Linked DNA regions of Homo sapiens. The protein of the gene in region 1 purifies or fractionates together with the protein of each later gene. This does not show direct contact. Each region holds a gene or a part of one and is shown on either strand. Other genes may lie near its edges. The genes, in order: MCMBP, ORC3, CDC7, KSR1, XPOT, PCDHGA9 and MCM9.

What was found.
Region 2: the proteins of MCMBP (region 1) and ORC3 purify together in Homo sapiens (co-immunoprecipitation; one study listed by IntAct). This does not show direct contact.
Region 3: the proteins of MCMBP (region 1) and CDC7 purify together in Homo sapiens (co-immunoprecipitation; 2 studies listed by IntAct). This does not show direct contact.
Region 4: the proteins of MCMBP (region 1) and KSR1 purify together in Homo sapiens (co-immunoprecipitation; one large-scale study listed by IntAct). This does not show direct contact.
Region 5: the proteins of MCMBP (region 1) and XPOT fractionate together in Homo sapiens (co-fractionation; one large-scale study listed by BioGRID). This does not show direct contact.
Region 6: the proteins of MCMBP (region 1) and PCDHGA9 purify together in Homo sapiens (co-immunoprecipitation; one large-scale study listed by IntAct). This does not show direct contact.
Region 7: the proteins of MCMBP (region 1) and MCM9 purify together in Homo sapiens (affinity purification with mass spectrometry; one study listed by BioGRID and IntAct). This does not show direct contact.

What each region holds. Positions count from the first base shown.
Region 1 is NC_000010.11:119,831,672-119,835,501, forward strand, and holds part of MCMBP (mini-chromosome maintenance complex-binding protein), read right to left. Parts: intron 430-3,830; coding exon 341-429; intron 1-340. UniProt on the Homo sapiens protein: Associated component of the MCM complex that acts as a regulator of DNA replication.
Region 2 is NC_000006.12:87,662,610-87,665,895, forward strand, and holds part of ORC3 (origin recognition complex subunit 3), read left to right. Parts: intron 1-393; coding exon 394-535; intron 536-2,133; coding exon 2,134-2,250; intron 2,251-3,144; coding exon 3,145-3,224; intron 3,225-3,286. UniProt on the Homo sapiens protein: Component of the origin recognition complex (ORC) that binds origins of replication. DNA-binding is ATP-dependent. The specific DNA sequences that define origins of replication have not been identified yet.
Region 3 is NC_000001.11:91,513,708-91,518,085, reverse strand, and holds part of CDC7 (cell division cycle 7-related protein kinase), read right to left. Parts: intron 4,139-4,378; coding exon 4,043-4,138; intron 3,268-4,042; coding exon 3,089-3,267; intron 2,345-3,088; coding exon of another isoform or gene 2,335-2,344; exon of another isoform or gene 2,293-2,334; coding exon 2,210-2,292; intron 1-2,209. UniProt on the Homo sapiens protein: Kinase involved in initiation of DNA replication. Phosphorylates critical substrates that regulate the G1/S phase transition and initiation of DNA replication, such as MCM proteins and CLASPIN.
Region 4 is NC_000017.11:27,606,017-27,610,394, forward strand, and holds part of KSR1 (kinase suppressor of Ras 1), read left to right. Parts: intron 1-1,897; coding exon 1,898-1,994; intron 1,995-3,179; coding exon 3,180-3,313; intron 3,314-4,050; coding exon 4,051-4,182; intron 4,183-4,378.
Region 5 is NC_000012.12:64,410,314-64,414,691, reverse strand, and holds part of XPOT (exportin-T), read right to left. Parts: intron 1-4,378. UniProt on the Homo sapiens protein: Mediates the nuclear export of aminoacylated tRNAs. In the nucleus binds to tRNA and to the GTPase Ran in its active GTP-bound form. Docking of this trimeric complex to the nuclear pore complex (NPC) is mediated through binding to nucleoporins.
Region 6 is NC_000005.10:141,400,877-141,405,990, reverse strand, and holds the start of PCDHGA9 (protocadherin gamma-A9 isoform 1 precursor), read right to left. Parts: upstream 3,214-5,114; 5' UTR 3,039-3,213; coding exon 615-3,038; coding exon of another isoform or gene 552-614; exon of another isoform or gene 492-551; intron 1-491. UniProt on the Homo sapiens protein: Potential calcium-dependent cell-adhesion protein. May be involved in the establishment and maintenance of specific neuronal connections in the brain.
Region 7 is NC_000006.12:118,910,692-118,915,069, forward strand, and holds part of MCM9 (DNA helicase MCM9), read right to left. Parts: intron 2,730-4,378; coding exon 2,604-2,729; intron 1,079-2,603; coding exon 959-1,078; coding exon of another isoform or gene 933-958; exon of another isoform or gene 1-932. UniProt on the Homo sapiens protein: Component of the MCM8-MCM9 complex, a complex involved in the repair of double-stranded DNA breaks (DBSs) and DNA interstrand cross-links (ICLs) by homologous recombination (HR).

The DNA.
Region 1 (3,830 bases):
AGGAATACTTTGTGAAAACACAGAGCACGTTAGGAGACAAGACCGTATGGTAGTTACACACAAGTCAACAGCCAAGTTAGGCTTCTAAAAAGAAATCGTTGAAGAGTCAGAATTGGAAAGTGGCTCACTCTTTGAAGCTTAGAGAACAAGCAGCATGCCTGTTCCACTGAAGAGATCACCAGCCAAACTCGATTCCCCCTCAATGAGCCCTTTCATACAGCGTTTTTAAAAGGAAAAGTTCATTTCCGTTTTTAGAATTCTGCCTCAGTTACTGCTGAATAACTCAGAAGACATATACACAAGCTTACCGAAACAGCAATAATGGACGTGCGCCACTTACCGAGCCACCACGAGCAGCTGGTGAAGATCATCAGCAGTGATGCTCTGAGGGTCGTTCTTCCGCATTTCCACAAAGTCATCTTCAACTGCCTTTATCAAAAGAGTAAATGTAAATGATGTGCATTTTTGTAAGGAAAAGAAAATTAACATGGTTCCTTGACTGATGTAGTAAGGTGCATGTCAGCCTCTTAGACAAAGGAGGCAATATGGGTGAAAGTACCAAAGCATATACATACATAATGCTGCTGATGAAAATAAAATAATGAAACTCAGATTCATTTAAGGTCAAGCAAACATATAAATCAGCAACTGGCATAGGAAACAATGCTTTTCCACAAAGGAAGAGTGATGTTAGTGAAAATGGCAGAGAAGGGACCGCAGAAAACTGTCTCTACTGTTAACACTGATCAAAATCAGCTTTTTAAAAACTAGAAATAAAACCATACTTGCAGCAATCCAGAGAGCATTTATGCAAGAAAACCAGGTGATTATTGGTAAGAATGTTGAGCCTGGCAGCATTTTAACATGTCCTACTCCTAAATTCCAACCCCTTCCCCTCCAGGCGATAATTAGTAGCTTCAAAAATCAACAGCCTGGCAGCCACCGGAGAGAGAACAGGGCTAGGGCTCCTTCCAAGTGCCATTCCCGGAGAACTGTCATCTGACCACCTGTCTGGTGGCTCCCTGGAAGGACCCATTTGCAAGGTTGTCTTTATTTAACCTGACTGGAAGCCTGTCTACTATGAACCACCTCTTTCCCCAGGGCATTTATCAAAAACAATCGGAAGAAATTACCAATCACCTTAGCTACCTGAGACACTGGGTAACAGCTGCGGCAGACAGACTAACCCAAACCCTTCAATGGAAAAGCTAGCTGGGAAATGACATGTCTGTAGAGGGCTCTGAAAACCTTAAGTATGTAACTCCTAGGAACTCAGAAGGCTGCAGACATGCTCAGAGACCATAGCTCCCACCTCTGCATGACCTGGAGGCTCTGTGCGAGCAGGAAATGAAGGCTAAGGCTTGTAAATTGCATGGCTAAGTGTTGAACTGAGGGCTTGCCCCAACTTTTATTTTTATTTATGATTATTATTCACCCGTAGACTGGGAGACTACTACCCAGCATTTAAGGAAATTTCTTTCCAATCATTAACCACAAAACTAACAGAGCAGAGACTTCAGTGCCCACATGTGACAAAGATACAGACTTTATAGAATTAGTCAAAAAAGTTACTAAACAACCTACCAACAGTAACAAACAGCAACAACAATAAACCCTAGGGAGGTTTAATTTCCAGAGTAACTTCCAAAGCAGAGTTGCCATATTATATAATTTAAAATGTCTGGTTGTGGCTAGATGTGGTGGCTTACACCTGTAATCCCAACACATTGGGAGGCCAAGGTGGGAGGACTACTTGAAGCCAGGAGTTGACCAGCCTAGGCAATAAAGCAAGACCTCATCACTACAAAAAAAAAAAGAAAGAAAAAAAAAGAAAAGAAAAAACAAAAAAACAAAACTTTAGTTGGGCATGGTGGTGCACACCTATGGTCCCAGCTACTGAGGCAAGAGGATCACTTGAGCCCAGCAGTTTAAGGCTGCAGTGAGCTGTGGCTGTGCTACTTACTATTCCAGCCTGGGTGATACAGTGAGACCCCACTGACCAAATAAAATGTCTGGTTTTCAACAAAAAAGTACAAAGAAACCAGAAGGTATGGCTCACACTTTGGGGATAAGGGAGTCAGTAGAAAACTGTCCCAGAGGAAACTCAAACATTAGACAAAAAGACTCTAAATTGGCTATTTTAAACATTCAAAGAAATAAAGGAAACCACATAAAAAGAACTTCAGGAAAATATGAGAATCACCAAATAGAGAGTATCAATAAAAAGAGAGAAATAATTTTTTAGAAGAAGGAAATAAAAATTCTGGAGTTGAAAAATATAGTAAAAATTCTCTAGAGGTGCTCAGATTTGATCAGGCAGAAGAAAATCACTAAATTTGAAGATAAGTTCACTGAGATTAGTCTAAGAAACAGAACAAAAAAAGAAGAATGAGGGAAAATGAACAGAGCCTTGAAGACCTGTGGGATACCATTAAATGCAACATCAGATACACAGTGGTAGTGTCAGAAGGAGAGCAGAGAGAAATGAGGCAGAAAGAAACATGGCCAAAACCTTCCCAAACTTGTTGAAAACTTCCCCAAAATATGAATTATTCTGCACCTCCAAGAAGCTCAACAAACTCCATGTAGGATAAACTCAGAGATCCACACATAGACACATCATAATCGAAACTGTCAAAAGCCACAAAATCTTGAAAGCAGTGACAGAAAAATGACTCAGTGTGTACAAAGGATCCTTATCAGAAACTAGTTGGCTTCTCAGTAGAAACCAGAGGCCAGAAAGTGGTGGGAGGACATATTCGAAATGATGAGACAAAGACTATAAACCAAGAATTCTACATCCAGCAAAACTAGCCTTAAGGAGAAATTAAGACATTCCCAGATAAACAAAAACTTAAAAGAGGGCTGGGCGAGGTAGCTCACACCTCTAATTCCAGAATTTCGGGAGGCTAAGGAGAGAGGATCACTTGAACCCAGGAGTTCGAGACTAGCCTGGGCAACATAAAGAGATCCCCTATCTGCACACACACAAACACACACACACACCCAAACAAAACAAAAAAACCCAAAAAACAAAGAATTAGCTGGGCACAGTGGCACATGCCTGTGGTCCCAACTACTCAGGAGGCTGAAGTGGGAGGATCGCTTGAACCTGGGGGGGTTGAGGCTGCAGTGAGCCATGATCACAACACTGCACTCTAGCCTGGATGACACAGCGAGACCCTGTCTCAAAAAAAAAAAAAAAAAAAAAAAAGAATTTGCACAAGTAGACCTGCCATGCAAGAAACACTAAAGACAGTTCTTCAGGCTGAAATGAAAAGATACTAGACAGTAACATGAACCCACATGAGGAAATAAAGGGTGCTGGTAAAAGTGATTGCATAGGCAAATAGAAAAAATAGTACAGAAGTCTTTTCCATTTCTAACTTTTTTCTCTAAAAGACAACTGCAAAAGCAGTAATTCTAAATGTGTTGATGGACATACAATGTACTGAGAGGTAATTGTATGACAGGAGCACAAGGGAGAGGAGAAGGAACGGAATTATAAAGGGGCAAAGTCTTTGTATAATATAATTAAAATGGCATTAGCCACACAAATTTTTTTTAAATTAAAAATAACTAAACAAACTGGCATTAATCCCTAATAGATGATTATACTAACATGTTAAGTTTATCCCCCAAAGACAACTACTAAGAAAATAACTTTAAGAAACTTCAAGGGATTAAAATGGGACACTGGAAAATACCTATTTCAAACAAAAAGACAATAATGGAGTAACAGAGGAATAAAAAAAGACATGACAGAAAACAAATAACAAAATTACCTTATCAGTAATTATGGTAAATGTAAATTGGTTGCATACTGCAAT
Region 2 (3,286 bases), on another chromosome or scaffold:
GTTTTCTCATTTACTTTAAGAAATGCTATCTTAAAGATTTCTAAGCAGAAATGTAGTATATATACATTTGTTCCTAAAGGTTTAACTCAGAACTGAAATATACAGCTTCTTATAAAGAGTCTAGAGGTAGTTTTAAAAACTATTATATGGAAGAGATGCAGTTCTGAGTGAAACTGTATTAGAGCTGATATTTGGGTTTGTTTCATTCGTTTGTTTTTGGTTGTTAATTTTGCTTTTAGTAAATGGTTCAGTCCTCTACAGAGAGAGGATTGACAAAAATGTTATAGTGAAAATTGAAGTCCAACAGAGCTTAAAGGAAAAAATATATATATTATATATAAAGAAAATAAACCTGTGCTTATCTAAACATGGATGCCTGACTGGCTGTTTCAGAGAATACCTTCTGCCTCCTGAGACACAGCCTCTCCATGAGGTGGTGTACTTCAGTGCTGCCCATGCCCTTCGTGAGCATTTAAATGCTGCTCCGCGAATTGCCCTCCATACTGCACTCAACAATCCTTACTATTATCTCAAGGTAAGATGAACATTTAGTTTTCTGATAGTTTAGCTCAGACTCTGGGCGTCATTGTCATAAAAATATACTAAATTTGCAGTTATGTTTTAATGAGCAGAGAGTCGGCAATTCAGGGTTGCACGTCTCATATATTTTTAAAAATTCTTTAGACTGTAGAAAAAAATTTCTAACCCCATAAAGATAGCAATTAGTAGTCAACTGTTGCTGCCAGTTTTTGACCATGTGTAATCTTTGCCCTTCACATGCTAAAGTCAGATCATAGGCACAAAGACTTGAGAGTATAATGTTACCACTCTTGTGAAAATAAAAGAAATGTTTCCTGTAAACATAACAGCAGACAGGGATTAAACAATATGGCCTAATAAATTACTGAAAGACCGAAATGGTTGTTTCTAGTGGGAAAGAGAAATACTTTGGGACTTCATCTTGGATTTTAAAACAAAGAAAGGTCTATTCTGAGAGCATCTGCAGAGCTGAGTGTAGAGGATAACCAGCAGTCTGCCACTAAAACTCCTGGGGCAGCACACTTCAGCTGCCCTTGCTAAAGTCCAGACACAGTTATCAACTCCTGGAAGCTCTTTAAACAATAGTTCAAGACAGCTCACAATTTTAGAAACTAGCTTTCTTATGACCGGGCAAAATGATCACTTTAAACATTCAATAAGCTGTATATACATGAAAGAGTGGTAAGTTAAATACCCAGAAATCTTGCCACAATAAATACTTAAGAAACAACTCCGTAAGACCTATGAAGAGCATTCCAGTGTACTGGCTTCTCATTGCAAAACGGCACACAAACATGCAGAGTATTACAAGAATATTGAGTAGGACGATATAAGTCAATGGTTTTCAGTGATGGTGAAAACCACTGAATAATTTCATACTTAACCAAAAAATCAGTTAATTTTAATATATAAACCATAAATTAAAACTTACAAAATCTGTCTTCTTCTTGGCTGGTGGGTCACAGAAGAGAACTGGTATGATTTCAGTTGTCTTTGGGTGGGATATATTATAATATACCCCTGATATTATAATATCAGAGCAGGGTGTGTATGTAAGACTTTGTGTTTCTCAGTAAAAGCCATGGATTTCAAATAGGTTGAAGAAACACTGATGGTTTCTATAGGGCTTAAGGTCTGCAGTGTTGACAACGTAGTCTTTTCTTTAAAAGAAATTTATACCCCTGGTAAGTGGTATTAGTATTTACTAATACAGTATAGTAATTGTTAGAATTCAGCTAATTATAAGTGTTGGAAGTACCATTTTATTAAGTATTCCTAAAGATTTCCATAAACTTTTTACATTAAGTGCATTCAGGTCTGAGAAATTAGTAATTTATGGATTGAAATGAAAAATATGCTTATCTTCTAATCCTGGGAATATTCTTCTAGTGACTAAGAACTAGAGGGGTTATGACCAAGACATAAACCTAAACAAGAACTAGCTAACTATTGAATAGACTCACTCACTAAATAAGGGAAACCAAGATTCCATTTACTGGTTTACTCAGTTTAGGTTGGGGGCTTCATTAATGTCTGATTTTATTCCTAATAATTTATAAAAGTTAGTCATCTTAGTTTACTGTTAATTGTTAGAATGAAGCACTGAAAAGCGAAGAAGGCTGCATTCCGAATATCGCCCCAGACATCTGCATAGCATACAAACTGCACCTAGAGTGTAGCAGGCTCATCAACCTCGTGGACTGGTCAGAGGTAGGTTGTAGGGAAAAGAACAAGCTAGATATTTTTCTAACCATCCATGATGACTTTCTCAGAATAGTTTTATACTTTTAGTGCTTTGGAATTTATCTTGTGTTTAATGCCTTGTCTTTTATTTGGAAAGCATAAATCATTTCAAACTTTAAAAGTTCCTTAGGAAGTGGTAGTTCAACAGTCCCCACTCCCAATCCCCTGCCCTCTGATCCTGAATTCCTTAACCAAGCCAATTCTGTGTTCATGCTAGGTCAAAATAAGTATGTGATCTAACCCAATAGTTAGCATTAAGCAAAAACTAAACAATTTAGGTCAGTTCTGTTATTTCACAAAATAAAGTATATTATTAACTAGCATTTCTCTTCTTGCTTAAAAGAAAAAAAATTGAAGTAACTACACAACAGATTTAGCAATCAGGAAGTATAAGGAATACTTGGCAAGGCAATAAACAACTGTTGTTATTCTTTAAAATAAACAACTATTCTTTCTGTCTTCAGAATAGTATTACAAAGATCTTAACTCTATTAAAGGCCTTACAGATGTCTTGTCACCATTAAAAAATATCCATAATTGGCTGCTTCCAAGAAAAATAGATATTTTCCTGGAGTAAGATTAGTAGAGGAAACAGGGCTTTCTTGTTCTTTTACCTTTGACTAGCTTCGTTTCTTTTCTCTGCATACTCTTAGTTCTCTGAAACAAGATTATTCAGGAACCATTACTTTATCTTTTAATATATAAGTGGTTTAAAGTGATCATCAGTGTAGTTTTGACAATCTTAAATTTGATATAATGAAGAATATGTGCCAGCTATCAACAGCCATTAAAAGAAGTATAGTAAAAGATGTTTGGCAACTGTAGACATTTTTATTTTCTTCTGTCTTGTCTATTCAAAAGGCTTTTGCAACAGTTGTGACAGCTGCTGAAAAAATGGATGCAAATTCTGCAACCTCAGAAGAAATGAATGAAATTATCCAGTATCCTTTTAAAACCATTTCTACAATGTCCAACTACACATAAAATATAAGTTTATAATTTC
Region 3 (4,378 bases), on another chromosome or scaffold:
GTCTCACTCTGTTGCTCAGGCTGGAGTGCAATGGTGCGATCTTGGCTCACTGTAACCTCTGCCTCCCGGGTTCAATTCTCCTGCCTCAGCCTCCCCAGTAGCTGGAACTACAGGTGTGTGCCACCATGCCCTGCTAATTTTTTGTACTTTTTAGTAGAGACGGGATTTCGCCATATTGGCCAGGCTGATCTCGAACTCCTGACCTAGTGATCTGCCTGCCTTGGCCTCCCAAAGTGCTGGTATTATAGGCATGAGCCACTGTGCCCGGCCCTACTTGCCTTTCTTAGCTCCTTTGGTACCTCTGCCTGCTCCTTCAATGTTTTCTCCAAGCCTTAAGTGCTGACGGATATTCCTCAGAGTTTTAACTTCTCCCTCTGTATACTCTCCCTGATTGGTCCATCCACTTCATGGCTTCAACTGTCATTTATATAATGATGACATTCATCTGTATTTCTAGCCCAGCTCCTTCGCTGAGCATCAGACTTAACTTTGATTCTGCTGGAAATCTCTATTTGGATGTCCCACAAATACCTCAAACCAATTATACCCCAAACTAACCTTACCTTCCCCTATAAACCAGTTACTTCTCCTTTACTCTCCACCTTGGTTACTGGTACACATCCAAGTCTCCCAAGCTAGGAATCTGGTAAACATCCTGAATGCCTTTTTCCCTCACCATACCACACCCTAATTCTACATCCAATTATCCACCAAGCTCTGCCTTTCTAACCCTTCACTTTTCTTTTCATTCCTATTACCAATACCCTCATTCACATTTTCATCCTCTCACCCGGACAAATTCATGCCACCACTCTCCAAAAGCTAATCTGTTTGCACGCCTGCCAGAATGATCCATCTAGGATATACCATTGTCACTTTTTTCACTTAACTTTCCAATATCTACAGTATATAGTCCAAACTGTAACAACTGTGGTCTGACCTTGTCTACCTCATTCCAGGTTTATCTCTCACCATTCCTCAACTTGCATCTTAATATTCTAGCAAAATTGGACTTTTTTTTTTGAGATGAAGTCTTGCTGTCGCCCAGGTTGGAGGGCAATGGTGCGATCTTGGCTCACTGCAACTTCCGCCTCCTGCGTTCAAGTGATTCTCTTGCCTCAGCCTCCTGAGTAGCTGGGATTACAGGTGCGCACCACCACACCCAGCTGATTTTTGTATTTTTAGTAGAGATGGGGTTTCACCATGTTGGTCAGGCTGGTTTCAAACTCCTGATCTCAGGTGATCCGCCCATCTCAGCCTCCGAAAGTGCTGGGATTACAGGCATGAGCCACCGCGTCTGGCCAAAATGAAACTTTTTTAGTTTCCTGTATGCTGTTTCTTGAGTTCCTTGGCTCATGCCTCTATGCTAACTTCTCAGCCCAATTTACATTCTAAGAGGTCATTTCTTTCATGAATTGCCTTTCATAATCTCTTTGGGTTAGGATAGTTAGATACTCCTTAAATACCCTGAATAAGTTTTATTACCATACTCAACAGGTTATTTTATAATTATTTGATGGTGTCCTGACTAGAGTGTGAACAGATGGTCTCATTTATTTATTTGTTATCATTAGCAAGCAAGAACAGACATTCAATGAATGAATACATTTCTTCAAAGCCCATAATCCAAGTGAATAGCAGGATTCATCTATTCATTCAAGATGTTTCCTGGATTCCAGCTCCATGGTAAGTTTTTAGATTACGGAAGACATTTTTCTTTTTCAAAACCTTCTAACTGCTATTATATTGTTTATATAATAACAAAAGTAATTTTAATCAAACACAAATATATCTACATCACAGGAAACTTTTGAGGTATTAAGCAAGCAAATAAAATGCTTTAAGTCTTTGGCTGGCAAAAACTATTAAACATAATTTTTTCCCCCACAAAGGTGATGTCAGCAAAATTCCACAGATTACATTTTGCGTATTTATTTACAAGATGGTAAGATCATCTTGTAAATAAATACGCAAAATGTAATCTATGGAATAAACTGTTTAAACAAAAAAAGAGAGGCAACATTAGGATTAAAAACTTTCATAAAGAATAGCATTAGCTCAAAAATAGGAATGCCACACTGCAAGAACTGCTTACATAATTAAAAGCAGAAGAACTCAAATATTAGTTATAAATAGACAAAGATCATAAAATAAAATACGTCTGGAACAATCCATTTTAACTAGGTTCTGTATTTCCAGTACAACATACCTGTAGTTTGATTGGGGCACTTTGTCAAGACCTCTGGTGCTCTGAATCCTGGTGTACCTGCCCTAGGGGCAACCTGCTGACGCCTTATGATGAAATAAGATTTCTCTAGTTATGTTAAAGTTGAACTATGTAAGTCTAAAAAATAACATTCATCAATTTAGTTCACAGTAAATTTTGCCTTGATACCTATATAATAAGTGTTACTATAAAGTAAATGATAATCTAGTGTGATAAAAATCCTAGATTTTTCTTCTTCTGTTTTTTACCCCCTCTACTAGTTCCCCGGACTTACTCCAGAAAGGTTTAAAATAACCTCCAAGAATAAAAAGCAGTAGTGGATAATAAGAGCCATAATAGAAAAAATAGAACCCAATAGCAATTCACAGGTATAAAAATTCATTTGTTTGGAGTAATTGATCACAGATACACTTATATATTTGAGTTAATCAAGAAAGGCTTTATGAAAGCCAAGCCTTGAAGGAAAGGAAGAAATTTATGAGTCAAAGAGTTGGAGGTGGGAGTAAAAGAGGAGCTCTACTATTTGGTTCTGGTTACTCCACATAAGCGGGAATAAAAAGAGAAAACAGAAAAGACTACATCAGCAATCAAAATGTGTGATTCTAAGCTTCTAAAAGCCACCCCGTCCCACTTATTTGCATATAAGAGCAAATGTGTTTTCCAGAGTATATCCATATTAAATAAATAATATATGAAAACTGTTATCATTTGCTCTTCAACATACTACTGCTCTGCATCAAGGCCCATTGCAGTTCACTGATCTGAACTGATCCCTTGCACTCACAAAATTATCCACCCAAGTCAATGCAATTTCTAATGGCAGCATGCTGGTGATTTTATAACACCATCAAAACACATTACCTTGAAAGGCAAATACTACAAACTTTATCTGTTGCATAGCAGTCACAGGTCAGGCTAGCTGGGCAAGAACTGGCAGTTTTCCTCATCACAGCACTATTCATAACTTTTGTAGAAATAGCCTTCTTTTTTGTTGCTAACTTTCTAGACAGTACATCCACAGTCTTTGACTGCTTCATGAGCTGTAAAAGAAAAGTCTCATTTTTCTATTTTCATGATATTAAACATGATGTCCTAAAATGCTAGTATGGCAAAAAGCAATAGCGGAAGCATAACTTTAAAAACTGCTGAATGGCTATTGGACTGTAAATAAACTGTTGTCTATTAAAATGTTTAAGGTCTTCTTGGGTTTTTCTGTAAAGTCACCTTATATTAAAATTTACTAATTAGTCCTAGCTTGGCCAATATTTGAGTTATACTTTATTAGAACTTTTCCTGATATATTACAGAAGTATAAAACAGTTATGTTCTAGTGTCTAACTCCATTTCAGAACTGTAAACTGCACAAGTACGTTGGCTAAAATCACAGTTTTAATTTGTTGCTCATGCTGTCTAGCTGTCACAAGATATCATAAGTCAATCTGAAATCATCTACATTGATGATGATTTTGTTAACTTTACAAACATCTTTACACTATCAACTATGTGTCAGAATAGTTAGCTAACTGTATGGAGCTCACACTCTAGCAATGACAGAAAGCCCTTAATGTTCTAAATGTTCCTCTAGAGAAAGACAGTAATAGCTAACCAAAAATGAGAAAAAATTCCACCAGAAAAGTTCAGAAAAAAACTGGAGAAAACAAGTTTTGACTAAATGCTTAAAGCAGTAATACCTTCTGCCAAAGCCAAACTCTAGTTTAAAAAAATTTCTGATAATAAATGTTAATCTAGTTATTACCTAAATTCTCTTCAGTGTATGACTGACTGACCATTATGCTATTAAGCTACATTACTTACTTTCACTGCAGGGCTCTCATGTGAAATGGAGCTGTGTATATTGAAATTTCTTTCTCCAAAAACAGAGCGCTGGACAGAAAGGCCTACAGATCCCTCCTACAATACCAACAAAAACAAGGAAAATAAGGATTATATCTGTAACACTTTCTGCCAGCTGTACTCTGCCATAGTTTTGAAAGAGTTAAGTGAGATGAAACAAAAACAGCTGCATCCAAGTCATTCTCAGGCACCAAACCACTTCTGTGAAAGGAGAAAATAGTCTAGACAGAACTCAACACCCATACAATGTTATCATAGTCCACAAATATATATAACTAAAAAAAAATTCAAAAACCA
Region 4 (4,378 bases), on another chromosome or scaffold:
TGTCTGTAATCCCAACACTTTGGGAGGCCAAGGTGGAAGGATTGCTTGAGCCCAGGAGCTTGAGACCAGCCTGGGCAACATACTGAGACGCTGTCTCTACAAAAAAATTAGCTGGGCCTGGTGGCAGGTGCCTGTGCCTGTGGTCTCAGCTACTTGGGAGGCTGAGGCAGGAGGATCGCTTGAGCCCAGGAGGTCAAGGCTGCAGCGAGCCAAGATCATGCCACTGCACTCCAGCCTGGGTGACAGAGTGAGACCTTTCTAAGTTTACAGAAGATCAAATGTCCATAAAAGGTACAGAGTGAAAGCCAGTCTTCTCCCACTGCAACTGAGCGCTTCTCCCCAAAGTCAGAGACACTATAAACAGTTAACATTCCTTCTGTTAAAAGGAAGACATTTGCATATACTCACGTTTTTAAACTGTTTATTCCTTTTTGTAAAAATACAAAGGAGAGATCATGCTGGCTCACACCTTGCCTCCTGCACCCGATTGTGGGTCTGAGGTCTACTCTCTTCTAACACCTGCACAGTATCCCCATCACGTAGGCTGAACCCAGTGGTGTGCTGGTAAATGTGTAACAACCAGTTTTGGGGCAGTATGGAGGGAAGCCCTAATTTATAACATCCATCACTTCCTGTGGTGTAAATACTCTCACCATGGTCAATTTCAGACTACCAATGTTATCTCCTGGAGTGGAGTAGAGTTGGGAAGAGTTGTATAATCAAGAGCTGATCACTGGTGGTCCCGTAATTTATTTACAGAACAAGACTCCATCTCAAAAAAAAAAAAAAAGTAGTTAATGAAAAACAAAACAGGTAATTAATTAATGATAAACTAGACAGGGTCTCGCTCTGTCACCCAGGCTGGAGTGCAGTGGCGTGTTCTTGGCTCACTGCAACCTCTGCCTCCCAGGCTCAAGCAATTTTCGTGCCTCAGCCTCCCAAGTAGCTGGGATTACAGCCGTGTGCCACCACGCCTCGCTAATTTTTATATTTTCAGTAAAGATGAGGTTTCACCGTGTTGGCCAGGCTGGTCTCAAACTCTTGACCTGAGGTGATCCGCCCACCTCAGCCTCCCAAAGTGCTGAGATTACAGGCGTGAGCCACTGTGGCCTGCCTGAAACAGGAAAATATTCATTAACAAAAAAATCTTACTTTGTTTAGAATACGCTGAAGAAAAGTGGGACACAGATAAGGAAATCACCAACCAATATTCTCTACCCCTTGCCTGGTTTTCAAAGGCTCTGAGACTCCAAGAATATTTTCCTAAAAACATAGTCCCTTCCTAAGATAGCTCCCTTGGACCCACATTCTCTCTGGGTCCCTCCTCACCCGGGGTTTTAGGAGTTGATGCAGGTGGCGACCCCAGAACTGAAGCTCCTTTTCCAGTAGTCACCTTGACGCCCCTAACATCTACCCCACCCCCTTTCCCTCCTTGCACACTCCTTTATTGTAATAAAAACCCTGTGATCAAGAAAAAATGAAAACTATAATGAGATTCTTGACAGTGAGCCCCAGAGCCTTGATGTTGCCTGTTGATGCCCTTAAATTAGCCAAGTTCTTCCCCATCAGAGTGGTCCTGCCTTGAACCCACCAAGCATGGCTACTCTGAGTTCCTGAGAGCTTTGATGCACTGTTTCCTGTTGTAGGATGGGCAGGCACTGGCTCTCAGGGAATGGGGGTTTGTGTGCGTGTACGTGTGTGGTGTCATGTGTTTCTGCACGTTCAGGCCAGGCCCCAGCAGGACTGGGCTGGGTTAAAGAAGATTTGGCTCACAGTCGAGGGGCTGGAGAGAGTCCTTGCAGGCAGACGGGCACAGTTCTCCCCATGGGCTCCACCAGGGTTGGGGTCAGGCCGCACCAGCCCCAGACTTGTGCTTGACCCCCACCACCCTCGACAGCTTCTGCAAGGGGCGGACGTTGCACTCGTTTGTGAGGGACCCCAAGACGTCTCTGGACATCAACAAGACGAGGCAAATCGCTCAGGAGATCATCAAGGTGAGGGGGTGCCCAGCTGCTGGGGGTGGGTTTCTGGCCGGTTCCAGGGCTCTCGGCTGTTCCTCTCGCCCTGTTACTCCCTGTTAGGGTGGTTTGGGCAGCTTTGCCTCTCCTTCTAGCTCAGGCTCCTCAAGGGTGGGACCCCATCTCTTCCTCCCTGTCTCTGTCTCATTCATTCAGAGCTGGGAGCTGATTGTCCACATGATTAGGCTTGATGGAATTGACTTGGTTGGGAAGGAACTTGGCAGGCTTTAGAGGCCAGTTTCAATCCTGGTCACACCCTTTGTGTGACCTTGGGTAGGTTTAGCCTCTCTAAGCCTCAGTTTTCTCCCCTGTAAAATGGGGATCTTCATATATCCTCCCTCTCTGGATTGGTGTGAGGTTAAAAACGCGATAATCCATGCTGTGGGGTACACAGGAGCCCTGGGTCTGGTGTTTGAAGACAGCTTGACCTTGGATGAGATCATGCCTATGTCAGGTCACCCACGCTCCATGCACCTGACTCATCAGTGTTAGTTCAAATAGAGCATTGGTTAGAAATCACCCACTGCCACCTCTTCGCTTGATAGGTGAGGAAACCAGTCTTCAGAGAAGTTGAGCACTGTGTCCAAGGCCACAGAGTGAGTGAGAATCTGAGCTGAGATGGAGTTCAAACCCCAGATTTCTTAGTCCAGGGCTCCTTCTACTACAGCTCAGACATTAGGAGCACTCAAAGTTGGGGACCCCGCTGTGGGAATGCCTCTCTGTTCCCCCACCTTGAGCCCTTGTCCTGCCTGAGAGCACAGACCAGCTGTGCATATCCTGACAGAAAACCCCAGCTCATTTAGGCCCTTTATGACTGTACACTGATAAATCTCACTGTCCCTGACCCCCCGGCTCCCTGCCCATCACCCTGTTCACACCTCCTACCTTAGCCAAGGTTAACATGGTTGTTTAGAAGCATGGTAACATTAAAAGAGCATAGACCGGTCTGGGATCAGATCTCAGCTCTGCTTCTTCACTGCTGTGTGGCTTGGAGCAAGTGACTTTCCCTCTCTGAACCTCGATTTCTTCTTCTGTAAAATGGGGACAATATACTGCATGGAATTGTGAAGATCAAATATGGGGATTTAGGTAAATCATCCAGCCCAGGGTGGCACCTCCGTCATCGTTGCACATCTTCACTCCTCCTGATGTGTCCTCCAGGGCATGGGATATCTTCATGCCAAGGGCATCGTACACAAAGATCTCAAATCTAAGAACGTCTTCTATGACAACGGCAAGGTGGTCATCACAGACTTCGGGCTGTTTGGGATCTCAGGCGTGGTCCGAGAGGGACGGTGAGTTGGTCTTGAGTGTCTGGGTGGGTTGTGGGTGCTGGATGGGGAAGAGCAGGGCTGAGGTCTGGGCACTTTCACTGTTTGTTGCTGAGCTGCAGCCCTCCCTGCAGGGAAGCCCAGGTCGCTTTGGTCCTGCCCTCGTAGTTCTGGTTCAGAATCAGATTTGGGTCGCGTTTGGATTCTCAGGCCGACTTCCACGGAAACCAGGTCCCCACACTCACATTTGCCCTGGCTGTTCACCCGCTTGGCCAAGGAACCAGGTCATTTCCCCACGATGAGGAAGAGTGTCAAATTTTATTTCCCCAAATCTTGAAGGGATTGGCATAGGGAGAAAGGCCCCTCCCCTCACATCTAGGGGAACCCAAAAGGGAGCATGGCAGCAAGGCTGCAAGGCCAGCCCCAGCCAAGTTTGAGATCCACAGGCAGATCAGGGTTCCTGGTTAGAGAGGCGCCTCATTCTCCAGCAGAGGGAGCTGGGCACCTTCACCAGCAGCTCCCTGTCAATATTTATCCATTCTTGCCCTGCTTTTCTAGAAACAACCGGTCATGACTCCTTTGTAGAATTCCTCAAAAGCACCGGTGCCTTTCCCAAGTGCAGGGTCAGTGTTCTGGGTCTGGGTGTGTTTTCTAAGCTGTGTGTGGGTGTTCTGCCGGCCCTGGGGCAGACCTGTGCCAGGCAGGCCTCTTTGCTGCCTGCTGAAAGGCCTGTGTCCTTGTCCCGGCTTCCTGGTCTCCAGGCGTGAGAACCAGCTAAAGCTGTCCCACGACTGGCTGTGCTATCTGGCCCCTGAGATTGTACGCGAGATGACCCCCGGGAAGGACGAGGATCAGCTGCCATTCTCCAAAGCTGCTGATGTCTATGCATTTGGGTGAGTAGGCCCCTGGTGCCCTGAGGCCAAGTGTGGCCAAAACAGAGGGCCCTGGTGGCCATTGGGGGCAGAGGGAGGCATGCTTTTAGGTGTTGAAAACCCAGGCTCTGGAGTAAAAAATCAACCTTGAGTCCTGGCTCTGCCGCTTGTTGAGTGCATGGTCTTGAGTCCTGGCTCTGCCGCTTGTTGAGTGCAT
Region 5 (4,378 bases), on another chromosome or scaffold:
TCAAACCTGTTTTCTTACAGCAGCAACAACACAAAAATGCCCCGCAGCCTTCATGGGGTTATTATGAAGAATGAGAGCAAGTGCTTTGTCAAGTGCCATACTACTGAGAAATTGCAGAGGATGAGTTAAGGGTGTGATCATTTTATAATATGCAATTATAAAATGGCACGTGAAGGGCACTTTTCCTATTTAATAGCACATCTGCTATTAAAGCGGTGATTATAAAAGATAAAACATACTGTGTACCTTATCTGATCTACTGTTACACAGGAGAGTATTTCAAGTCTTTAATTATATCATGTAAGTTCCCTAAAGAGATTAAAATTGGAGTACAAGTGCATGATATGAATTTTGAAAAATATTAAGTAACTGAAAAGGTCAAAGCTCGAGGAAGTTTTTTATCTCTAAGTTTATGAATTCAGGGCCTTGTAATCACAAGTAACAGTGCCAACAAGGAGCAAGAGTACTCTAGAATGGATGCAGCACCAAGTCCATACGCTCTCTACCAAACTGTTGGGAAAATGGGAGTTACTTCAGGCACTCTTCCCATCAGCATGTTGCACCAGATGCAGGTTTCACACATGGCAATGGACAAATAGTAGTGAACATCTTGTGACAAGTATCTCCAATAGACAAGAAAATTGCACATCAACTGGAAGCACTGCTAGATGATTTGACAGCAATTATGTATGAAACAAAAGCTGACATGAGGTAAAAGAAACATTAGCCTTAGAGAAACCTAATTTCAATTGGTAAATATTTTTAAAACGGTGGTGTCTCCCACTAGTGATGAAATCAGTTTATGGGTCCTGAACAATAATTTTTAAAAATGAAATAGAGAATATTAGATATTCTGTACTATACCCTAGCAAGAATATTACTTTCTGTAACTTGTTTTAGTTATTTATGTGCATATGTACCTATAAATATATACACACACACTGGGTCATCGAGATGTAAAGTTATTTTTTTCTTTGGGTTACAGATCAAAGCCACTGTATTTATATTTAGGTGATAGTTTCCTATACTATGTAACTGTATGAATGAGGGAATGGGTTTTCATACATGGTCTCAATGGCTGCTCCCACTGACAGAAGACCAGGTAAATGAAGATGATTAGGTGAAGATCACCAAATATAATATTAAATATATGGTATAACGAAAAAATACATTTGGGCTTTGCAGCCAGTTGCTGGCTCAGAGCCCTTAAAACTCTTGGAAAATTTCCTGAGCGACAGGACCGTCTTTTGTTATTTATAATGAGTCCTTTGGGCCAGGCACAGCAGTTCACACCTATAATCCCAACACTCTGGGGGGTCAAGGTGGGAAGATCACTTGAGGCTGGAAGATCACTTGAGGCCAGCAGTTCAAGGCTAGCCTGGGCAACATAGTGGGACCCTGTCTCTACAAAAAATTTAAAAATTAGCCAGAAGTGGTGACGTGCACCTACAGTCCCAACTACTTGGGAGGCTAAGGTGGAAGGATCACTAGAGACTTCGGGGTCAACAGAGTTTATGTTAATGAGGTAACTTGGTGTGGGAACACTAGACAGCCTCAGGATACAGCTGGTTACCAGAAAGATCAACTGATTAGAGTGTTGAAACTTTTACCCTAACCACCAACCTCTGGGAAGGGGAGAAGGGACTCAAGATTCAGCTCTATAAAAACTCTTGAACTTCCAGGTTGGCAAACACATCGAGATGCTGAGAGGGTGGTGTTCCTAGAGAGGGTGGTGTTCCTAGAGAGGGCACAAGAGCTCTGTGCCCCTTCCCCTATACTTTGCCCTATGCATCGCTTCCATGTGGCTGCTCATGAGGTGGATCCTTCATCAGCACAAGAAAGTCAACTGTTTTTCTAAGTTCTGTAGGCTACTCCATCATCAGAAATATGAGAGGTTCTGGACTCAATTAGTGTCTTAAGTGGGGGCGGTTTGTAAGACCGAGCCCATAACTTGTGGGATGTGATGCTAATCCTGGTAGTGTCAGAATTGAATTGATTTGTAGGACACCCAGTTGGTGTCCACAGAAATCAAGAGAGTTGGTTGTTGGTATTGGAAAACAGCCCAGAGTAAATAATGTCTCTCTTTAGAAGTTAAGACTATAAGAACACAGGCAGCTATAAAAGATAGTACTAGCTTAGTTGTTTCTAACAGCAGTCCATGAAACATAGGGTATTCTTTAGGAATATCTCAGAGGCCAGAGGACAAGGTAGAAGTTAATCATGTATGTTGCATTACCACCTAATATTTCACTTACAAAAGAGGGGAGAGGTGGTTTCAGCTGCTAGAAATGTCATGACATACCATTTTCTTTAAATAATAACAGGTTTTAAGCCAAAGACGAGTGTTTTATTTTTTAAAAAGGAGGAGGCTGGGCGCGGTGAGTCATGCCTGTAATCCCAGCACTTTGGGAGGCTGAGGCAGGGAGATCACAAGGTCAAGAGTTTGAGACCAGCCTGACCAACATGGTGAAACCCCGTCTCCACCAAACATACAGAAATTAGCTAGGCGTGGTGGTGTGTGCTTCTAATCCTAGCTACTCTAATCCCAGCTGAGGCAGGAGAATCTCTTGAACCCGGGAGTTGGAGGTTGCTGTGAGCCAAGATGGTGCCATTCCACTCCAGGCTGGGCAACAGAGTGAGACTCTGTCTCAAAAAAAAAAGGGCGGGGGGCGGGGCAGGGGTGAGAGGAAGGAGAGGAGAGATAACGTGGAAGTTTTTAGTTTTTAAACAAAGCCTTTGTATTCTGAATCTATGCATTACTAACAATTAAAAAAACAAAATTCTACAACACTGACAAACAAGTCCTAGCTTTCACCACCTAGTTCTACCCCATACCTTTTTTCTAATGGTTGACTGACTCTATGTGACAAGAGTCAGTTCAACTTTTATTGCCCATGTAAAAAACAGAGAATTACAGATAGACAACTGAGCAATTGGGGTTGGCAGACAGTCATTCTTCTCACCACCAAACTGAATTAAGTTTCCACTACTCCCGAACTGCAACAAAAGGGCTTTCAGAATTCACTTTAAGATTTCTTCCCTTTCATCCTAATAAATTGTTATTCAGATTGGCTAAATGGATACTGAATTATGCCTGGACCTGGATGCTTAAAACACGTATGTGACAGAACCCATTTTTACTGACAAAAAGCAGAGCTTCTGTATTAAAACCACTAATAATGTATTGGTTTTAATTTTCTGAAAAAGAAATCATGGCACATTTAAAAAAATTGGATGCTGGAACTTAAGAGGCAAAGAAAATGCCTCTTTCATCCAAAAATTGGATGCTGGAACTTAAGAAATGAAAGATTTCAAGAGGCACATAAAAATAACAGTAAAGGCCATTTAATAACTAAACATACAGTCAAAGGCTTTTAATTACAAGCATGCAATACCAAGCTAGACTAAAGGTAAAGATCTATGATACTTCAACTATGTTTGAAGGTAGGTAGCATAAAACCCTATGACAAGAAAGATTTGTTTACACACAGAAGACATGGATTTTAAATGTCTTTTGATGTCCTAACTTGTTTGATAGGTATCTTGTAATTAGCCAGATACTTAAATCTCAATTCCTATTATTTTCCTGTATCTGAAGGGCTCGTTACTTATTTAGTAGCAGAGACATGCACATGGTACTGTATTAGAAACTAGTTGGGATTGTTTTTTACTGCTTTAAAAGATTTTTTTCTTAAAATAAGAATAAAAACTGCTATAATTTTTAGTGAGATTGTTAACCTCATTTAGCTCATTTATAAAAAGTATTCTTTGCTATGAAAAGTAAAAAGAAAATGCCTCTTTCCTTTCCACTTACCCTATAGTTCCAAATGCCCACGTCTTTAAAAAAAATTAATTATAGGCTCATTCTTTATATTTTTCTATCATTCAGCTATAGTCATGATTATAGTTGTAGGCTACATTATATTTAATTGTTTACATTTATCCAACTATCCCAGCACTTTATAATGGATTCTTGTCATGTAACCATTTTACTTAAGACATAACCTATCATAACTGCTTATTTATGTCTGCCTAGACCAAATAACAAGAAAGTTAAATATCACTAATGTGGCCGGGCAGGGTGACTCATGCCTATAATCCTAGCATTTTAGGAGACTGAGGTGGGCAGATCGCTTGAGCTCAGGAGTTCGAGACCAGCCTGGGCAAGATGGTGAAACCCTATCTCTAGAAAAAAATTAAAATAAAAAAAAAATCATTAAGGTAAGTGTTAAAACAGCTTGTATAGATCAAGCCAAGGAAAGAGAAAATAAAATACACATGTCTGCTGCTATGGAAAGTCTCTTAAACGAATCCTTTGCATTACAATTTTTAAATAATTAGAAATAATGACTGATGTTGCATAAAGATCTGCCTTGAA
Region 6 (5,114 bases), on another chromosome or scaffold:
GCTACCCCATGAAGTATGGTTTACGTTGACAGCAGGTTAATTATTATGAGAACATGAAAGTTATATCAGCAAATATAACTAATAAATGCCTCCTTTCAGTGTTGGAGCAACAATTAGGCCCAGTGAAAAGTGATGAGAAACACACTGATATCAACTTATACTACCTTAAGTACAGACAGTTAAAGAGAAAGCTAACTATAATAGAAAGTTAAGGGCCAGGCGCAGTGGCTCACGCCTGTAATCCCAGTGCTTTGGGAGGCTGAGGTGGGTGGATCACTTGAGGTTAGGAATTCAAGACCAGCCTGGCCAACATGGTGACACCCCGTCTCTACTAAAAACACACAAAAAATTAGCCGGGCGTGGTGGCACGTGCCTGTAGTCCCAGTTATTCTACTTGGGAGGCCTGTAGTCCCAGCTACTCTACTCTAGTCCCAGCTACTCTACTTGGGAGGCTGAGGCAGGAGAATCGCTTGAATTTGGGAGGCGGAGGTTGCAATGAGCCGAGATCACACCACTGCATTCCAGCCTGGGTAACAGAGTAAGACTCTGTCTCAAAAACAAAACAAAACAAAAAACAAAAAAAGAAAAGAAAGAAAGAAAAAAAATGAACTCACCGGAACCAAAGGGGTGTCTTCTATAGGAAACTTGGAATCAACAGAGACGCACAAAGGCTCATTTTTCTCACAGCTCTGCTGGCTGATGAGTGTGTCTGCATAGTTGGGCTGGGGGAAGATCAGGTGACTCTTCCTTGAGTCAGCGGTGAGGGAGAACTCCTGAGAATAGGTCTGTAGGAAAGCTCGAACCCCATCTACACCCACAAAGTGTGAGGTGGGCACACCAGCCAACCCATCACTGGTAGCCCGCAGCAGATGCGAGGAGTGCCAGTGCCTCAGCCTGAGGGCCAGCAGCGTGATAACGAAGGTGAGGAAGACACAGGAGACGACTGCCACAGCCACAACGAGGTAGAGGGTAAGGTCTGAGGCCTCCAGGTCTGCAGGGATCTGAAGACTGCCCAGGTCAGCCAGGATGTCTGGGATGCTGTCAGCTATGGCTACTGTGAGCGTGACAGTGGCCGAGAGAGGGGGCTGGCCATGGTCCTGTACAGCCACCACAAGGCTCTGTTTGAGCGCATCTCTATCTAGCAGGGCCCGAGCTGTGCGCACTTCACCTGTGTGCAGCCCCACCGAGAAGAGCCCTGGCTCACTGGCCTTGAATAGGCGGTAGGAGAGCCAAGCATTCTGGCCTGAGTCTCTGTCCACTGCCACCACCTTGGTCACCAGGTAGCCAGGCTCTGCAGAGCGGGGTGCCAGCTCCACACCAGTAGAACCATCAGTGGGGAGGGCAGGGTACAGGATTTCTGGGGCATTGTCATTCTGGTCCAAAACAAACAGTCTCAATGACACATTGCTGCTAAGTGGTGGGCTTCCACTGTCACTTGCCGTCACCTGCATTTGCAAATCTCTAAACTGCTCATAGTCAAAGGAGCACAGAGCATACAGCACACCAGTGTCTGAGTTAATAGAGACATAGGTGGAGAGAGGAGACCCTTGGATGGTATCCTCTGCCAAGGAGTAAATAACTCTAGAATTCTCATTGCTATCAGGGTCATAGGCAATCACGGAGAAGATGGAAGTACCTCTGGCGTTGTTTTCCGGGAGGTAGACTGAGTAGGAGGCTTGAGAGAAAGCAGGTGGATTATCATTGATGTCAGTCACTTGCAGGGTGATGTGAATTTCTGTGGACAGGGGCGGAGTTCCTCTGTCTGTTGCAGTCACCGTGATATTATATTCTGAGGCTTTTTCTCGGTCAAGAATTTGGGCCGTCAACAATCTGTAATAATCTTCTTCTGAATTTTCTAATGTAAAAGATAGATTCTCCTGGATAGAACAGACAACTTGACCATTCTTCCCGGAGTCTCGGTCATGAGCATTGAAAAGAAGAATTACTGTTCCCTGAGGTGCGTCTTCTCTCACTGGGCTAAACAGAGATGTAATGGTCACTTCAGGTCTATTGTCATTTACATCTTCCACCGAAATGAGCACTTTTGTCCACCCTTTCAATCCCCCACCATCTTCAGCTTGTATTTCCATTTCATAAAATGAACATTCTTCATAATCTAGACTTTTTGCTGTTGATATTTCCCCAGTATTTTCATTAAGCTGGAATAGCAGAGATTGTTTTTCATTAATTTTCCAGAATTTGTATGCCACTTTTCCGTTGATTCCCTCATCCAGGTCGCTGGCTGTTGCAGTAAGCAGCCAGGTGCCTGGGGGCACGTTCTCAAGGACTTTAACTCGGTAAATCCGTTGAGCAAAAACCGGGGCATTATCATTTGTATCCAACACTGTCACATGGATGCGCACTGTGCTGGAGCGACGCGGCTCGCCGCCATCCGAGGCCGTGAGGACCAGGTGGTGGGCAGTTGCCTCCTCCCTGTCCAGGGCGCGCTCCAGCACCAGCTCTGGGTTTATGGCTCCATTGTCTCCAGTCTGCACGTTCAGGGAGAAGTGGTGATTGGGGCTGAGCTGGTAGCTCTGGAGGGAGTTCACGCCAACATCCGGATCAATAGCTTCTGGAAGTGGATAACGTGCTCCAGGAACCGCGATTTCGTTAATTTTTACTTCCAGACTTTCGGCCTGGAACTTTGGGGCGCTGTCGTTAATATCAGTTACTTCTATTTCTATTCCGTACAGTTTCACTCTGTCTTCAACCAGGACTTTAAAGTTCACCAGACACCGCGGGCTCTGAGCACAGAGCTCCTCCCGGTCTATCCTACCCGCGGTGACCAAGGTGCCGCTGCGCGGGTTCAGAGAGAAAAGCTGCGTCCTACCTCTAGAGACGATGCGGACTCGGCGCTCCGCCAGCTCCCGGGGCTCCAGAGCCAGGTCCTTGGAGATGTTGCCCACAATATAGCCCTTTTCTGTCTCTTCAGGCACTGAGTAGCGAATCTGACTGGCCCTGGCCTCCCATAGCATCCCCAGGAGCGAGCATAGCAGGACTAATCTTCCGCGGAGCTGGCATTTGGTTGGAGCTGCCATTGCTGCCTCGCTTTGGAATTTTCTCAAAAGGATCTCTGTGCGCGCTGCTTCATCAGGTTCTTTCTTCCACCCTGCAAAGTATGGTGATCTTTTCCTTAGAAGAAAGAGGCTGAGTTTTGCTGCAGCCTGGGAGCAGGTTTGTGGTATCTGCCGGGTTTTGTGTAGCCGCAGAACTGGAAATCCGGATGGAGTCCTGATTTTCGCTTAGAGTTGATCAACAGCGGCGCTCAGAGTCCTAAGCCGTTACTACACCCACTGATGTGTAACATTATATCAGATGGCTGATAAAGAAAACACTACTCTCTTCTAATTATGATTTTAGATTTCTCCAATTGTTTCTTGCATTTGTATTTCAAAAGCAATCTATTTTTTAGATATCTGAGTTGTAAATAAAGTGGAATAAAATTTCTGTAAGTGTATTATAAAATCACAAACCATTGCTTAATATTAATTTATTCTTATTCTTGGTAGAACTTTGCACTCTATTTCTAGATATGTAAACTATTATAATTTCCTTTTTATGATGCTTCAATTTTTTCTGTGTATCTTAACAATTTTCTGAAGTAATTTTTATGTGCAATCTTGTTTGGAAGTACATTCATTTTTAATTTTTATACCTATATATTTGTAAATGTAAAATATATAATTGTATTAATACATATATAAGGATAGATTATCCACTTTGAAATTATTTTCTGGGGTTTATTTTGATGATAAAATTCCTGGAAAAACGTTTATTTTAAATTTTTGTATTATAAAAGTAATATTAATTCAGCAATAGTTACAGATGTTCTCGCCTAATATTGCTAAATATTAACAGGATTAAAGTTGGAAATTTTCACATTTTTGTAATTGCTTAAACTTTTCTGCTATTTCAAAAATGCTTAGTTTTTTAATGTGAATATGTAATGCATGCACAGACTGTGTTTCAATGATTCAAATGCATATACACTGAAAAGCAAGTTTCTATTTTAATCCTTCATCAATAAATTATGCAATTTTAAAGTGGTCTTAAACATTATTCTAAGCATCACTTAAACTTATATAATAATTTGGGAAAAAGAACACAAAATATACAACAAAGAAAACTACTGAAAGGTTAAAAGTAAGTGGTATTATAAGAAATCTCAGCACTTTGTAAGGAACCCATTTACTGAATCACATACTAAGGGAAACCAAGCAAAAGACTTATACCATGTAATGGGAGCTTTGTATGTACACAAGACTAGTAGTTTTTGTCTTAAAAATGGAATAATCCTGTATTCACCTTCCATCCTACAAGGATGTTGAGAAAACATCCAGTCATTTATATTTAAAGCTCCAAACGATAAGACAAATCCGGTGTCTTTTTCCCCTTCTTCAAGAATATGTCAGGATTCCGAGCAAGAGAAATTCAGGCAATAGCATTTCCTTTTTTTTGTAAGTTTCTTCTGGTAATTATATAGAGGTGGAAAAGGATTTTGCATCCAAGAAAACCTGGATAAACTTAGAAAATTATTTGGATGATTTGGACCTTCTAAGTTCAGTGAATCAGTCTCTCTCTTTCTCTCTCATACACATAACATGTAGTATTTTTCTTCTTCTTCCTCTCCTTCTCCTTCCTTTTTTTTGAGATGGAGTTTTGCTCTTGTTGCCCAGGCTGGAATGCAATGGAGTGATCTCGGCTCACCGCAACCTCCACCTGCCAGGTTCAAGCAATTCTCCTGTCTTAGCCTCCTGAGTAGCTGGGATTACAGGCGCCCGCCACCACACCCAGCTAATTTTTGTATTTTTAGTAGAGACGGGTTTTCACCATATTGCCCAGGCTGGTCTTGAACTCCTGACCATGTGATCCAACCGCCTCGGCCTCCCAAAGTGCTGGGATTACAGGCATGAGCCACTGCACCCAGCCAACATATAGTATTTTTAATAAAATTTTAGGAGATTCAAAAAATCATAAATCCATTAGGTAGGAATAAGAAAGCATATATGAGGAACATAAGAAAGAGATGAAAACTACCAGTGAAATCAGTGAAGAAAGACATCTACTAGCAGTTTCTTTGCTTTAAAAGATGAATTAAATGATTACATACATTA
Region 7 (4,378 bases), on another chromosome or scaffold:
TTTATATATTCTTGCCTAGTATCCTGAAGTTTGTCTACCCTTCTCAATTCCAAAAATCCATTCTTGTCAATGGTTAATATACTGTTGAGTTATATTTCAAAACCTGAGACCTCCTTAACAGTTTTCCACTTATACAGGACCATTAATTGGCCATTTTCTGTTGTATGATAAATTTTAAAGTGTTAGTTTCTCATTAGAAATTTGAGCATTCATTAGCCCAATGGAAGTTAATCTGACTCCCTTAACAAGTAGCAAACATTTTTAAAATGTGTGAAGCCAAGGGTCTGTTTTCAGAAGAACAGAAACATTACCCAATCAAAACTGTAAAAATACAAAATAGCATCAAACATATTTTTTAAAATAATTTTTTTCTAAATTCCCTGGGTCACTTTATTTATAATCAAATCTTGACATTCTACCTGCAAAGGCTTTTAAGTGTACTTGCTAAAGAATCATTACAACTTATGAATGAAGCTCCACATTGCAATGATGGAAGTATATTTTCCAAATATTAATAAACATTCCCTACCTAAGAAATTTCAGTAGGAGCTACTGTTGCCTATCAGATTTATGAGCATGAAAATGCCTTAAGCTCTATACCATCTATCTACTTGGTAAAGTGAAATATCCCCCTCTTTAGTTTAACATTCCAGTTGCTGAGTCTTGATAAAATGCCAGATGATACGGACTTTTTCCTGCATAAAAGTATGAAGGTAATCACTAGAGAATGAGAAAATTGAATAGGATTGTTCAAAACTAAGATGCAAAGTGAAGGTGGAGCTTGCAAGATATTTTCTTAGAGCTACCAAAATAACATTGCATATTTCCTTCCATTTTTAGTGGTAACTCAAAAATTAGCTTGAAATTTATCCTATTATAGGTAGTTTTTCATTAGAAAAAACCATTGTGTTAACTTCTGAAGTAATGTTAAATTACTTGAAATTGTCACATACAATACCTGCACTAGTAGATCCAATTCCTGTGGTCAGCACAGATCTTGGTGTAATCTTTGCTGCATATTTGAGGAACTGAGATTTCCCTGTGCCAGGATCCCCAACCAATAAAAGATGAGATTCTCCTAGGAAAAAGCAAATACATGAAGTTTTAAATTTCTATAAAAGGGTCCATTTGGAATGCCAACAAAATATTACATAGTGTTTTTACTGTGTACTTTTACATAGGGTCGTTTGAGAAAGGATTTAACTAGAAAATCTTCAGAAAGTTAACTGTCATAAACAGTCCTTAATTGATTACTCAATGTGACATAGAATCTAAATTCTATTAATAAATTATGTGCTATTTCCAGATGTTCAGGCCTATGTTTAACATTTTAAAAAATATCTGGGGCCAGGTGCGGTGGCTCACACTTGTAATCCCAGCATTTGGGAGGCCAAGGCAGGAGGGTCACTTGAGCCCGGAAATGTGAGACCAGCCTGGGCAAGACTCCATGTCTACAAAAACAAACAAAAAATTTTTGGCTTATAAAGTTTCTGATTTACTCTATTTTTAAATATCAAACTACTATGATTAAATCCTTGCATACAAGTCATATAAGTATTTTATTCTATTTTTATTTAAGCACTTAGAAGTATTAGGGATTTTACAAGTACTTTACAAATATCAAATTATGATTCTAACAGTTAAGTGAAGACCTTTTCATTTATGAAAATTTTAGTAACTTAGTGAAATATGTATCTTAAAATAAGTACTCATTTTGCAAATGTAACATAAATAACGTGCATATCCTATGGTACATATGATTTCACTGACCAAGTTTCTTCAGCAATTCTCAAGTGTTTCCTAAATACATTAATAGGAAACCCCTATTTAAGCTCAACATTTGGCAGAGTGCCTTGCAAAACAGTAGGTGATCAAAACATATAAGGACGCCTTATACTTACTATTCTATACTGTACTATATGGTTTTCGAGTCCCTACTAACAGCCTGATTTATAACAATGCCCTTTTAGTCTTTTGGTTTAATTTTTGGTTATTATGGCCCACGTACAGGGCCGTAATAACCCGTATGCCAGACTCTGGTTAAGTGTGTTAGCTGCAAAAGAGCTTTCTGCCATCTGGACATAATTATACACTTAAGAGTAATCTTTTCTTGAAGGTGTGACCTGCAGCAGCACCCCATGGCAGATGGCACATTTGCTATCTACCAGCAGAAGGAGAATCAGCAGGCAGATGACTGAAAGCAGCAGTCTAAGAGAAACACAGTGACAGCCACAGATGGAGAGACGCTGACTGGAGACATTAAAATACACTATTTCTAATCTTTTTCCTTTTGAAAACAGACCGGGGATCCAACAAAAAACACAGTAATAGAAACAAAGATTTTATTTTGTGGCATCCTTATAGGCTATAGCAAAAGTATATGCCATAGAAAAATGTAACTTCTTTCAGTCTTTCTGGAACTCTAGAAAGTAGCTTCTGATATACAGATGCTAGACTAAGTATAAGATATTCAGACAACTGTCAGTTTTATAAGATTACAATTGGAAAATAAAACCCAACGAGCAGTTTTTATTTGGGAAAGAAAAAGTTCTAGCTTCCATCCATGTGTCAATATTACTCAAAATTTCTAAATAGGTACTAACCTCTGACCCGTGTTCCTGTAGCATCAGTCCTTTGAATCCCACCAGCCAGCACCATGGCCACAGCAAGCTTTACTAGATACATTCCAAACACTTGAGGGCACAAGCTAGCCAATATTACATTCCTTCCTAGGAAAAGCAGAAAGATCAGAAATCAGCAATAATTTTCAAGAAACCCCAACTGAAATTTCCCTTCCTTTCCTATCTGACCATCCTCATTTAAATATACTCTACTATGTGAAGTGATCAGGAGGTCCAATTCCAAATGACCAACAGGATTAAAGGAGGAAATAACTTTGTTTTGGTTCAAAATGTCCTGTTTTTTTGAGACAGGGTCTCACTCTGTCACCTAGGCTGGAGTGCAGTGGCGTGATCATAGCTCATTGCAGCCTCAAACTCCTGGGCTCAAGCAATCCTTCTGCCTCAGCCTCCTGAGTAGTTGGGACAGCAGGTGTGCAGCACCACGCCCAGCTAATGTTTTTTTTCTTTTTTGGAGCAACGTGGTCTCACTATGTTGCCCAGGCTGGTCTCACTCCTGGGCTCAAGCAATCCTTTCATATCAGCCTCCCAAAGTGCTGGGATTACCACCCAGCACTCATGAGTGGTATGAGCCACCGTATGTACTTTCTATGTGACAATTTCAGTAAAATTACTCCACTGCCTAAATAAAAGGAAGGTATTCAATCTCAGAAATAATGAGTCAGATCATACAAGTCAGTAATCTTTAAATACAGAGGTAGCTGGAGCTCATGAAGCTGCTCCAAAGGTATAAGAAATAAGTAAAAAATCCACCCTCCAAGTCAATTCAGCATTTGCTCTGAGCAGTCTGGTAAATTCTGTTTTCTCTGGAACAAAGTTACAGGGGCATCAAGGCATTAAGAAGATCACTGCACACCACAACCCTAGCAGTGTAAGTATGAGATCTCGAATTCTTCTGATCATGTGCTTTAAATAAAAGAACATCACTGTTTGGGGTTCTGTTTTCAGAAATAACGCACCAAATCTGAGAATCTGCCTATCTCTTCCATGAATAAAGCAGGTATTTCATTCAGTCATTGGCCTAACCAACCTATGGAATTCCAACAAGCCATTCCTGAGCCTTTCCACGACTTATGGCCCTATACACAAAGGCTACTTTTTGTAATGAATCAACATTGATTCAGTGGCAACTAATCTATGATGATGTGGCCTGCGATGGCAGAAATGGTGAAGAAAGAAAATCTTTTAGTAAAAAAGGAACCAGAAGATTTAGTAAATCCAGGAAGTTCATTACTTGCTGAAGGAATCCCTCCCTGTTTGGAGTTAGAAAGCCTGGAGAAAAGGTCAGGAATCCAAGCAGATAAGACTTGACAGCAGGTAGGTAAATTGTGACCAGAATCTAGTGATTACATGTGGAAGGAAAGAAGAAACAGCCCCAACAAACAGGTTCAAGAGTAGGCAAATTGATCTGGGAATTACATAAGCCAAAACTTAGAGCCAATTTTACTGAGTAACATGCTGATGGGAAGCATATCCCTGTGGTAAGAGGACAGGCTCTGGTGTCATGTTTGGATTCAAATCCCAGTGCTATTAATTACCAACTGTCTGACCTTAGGCAAGTTTCTTAACCTCTGCCTCCATTTCTTGTCTGCAAAATGGAGATTATAATGGTATCAAGACAGAATTGTTGAGAATCAAGGGAGTTAGTAAGTATACAACACATTAAATAATAACTGGCATATAGTGGGAACTACTTAACTGTAACTGTTAGCTATTTTATTACCTGTATTATTTGTGCA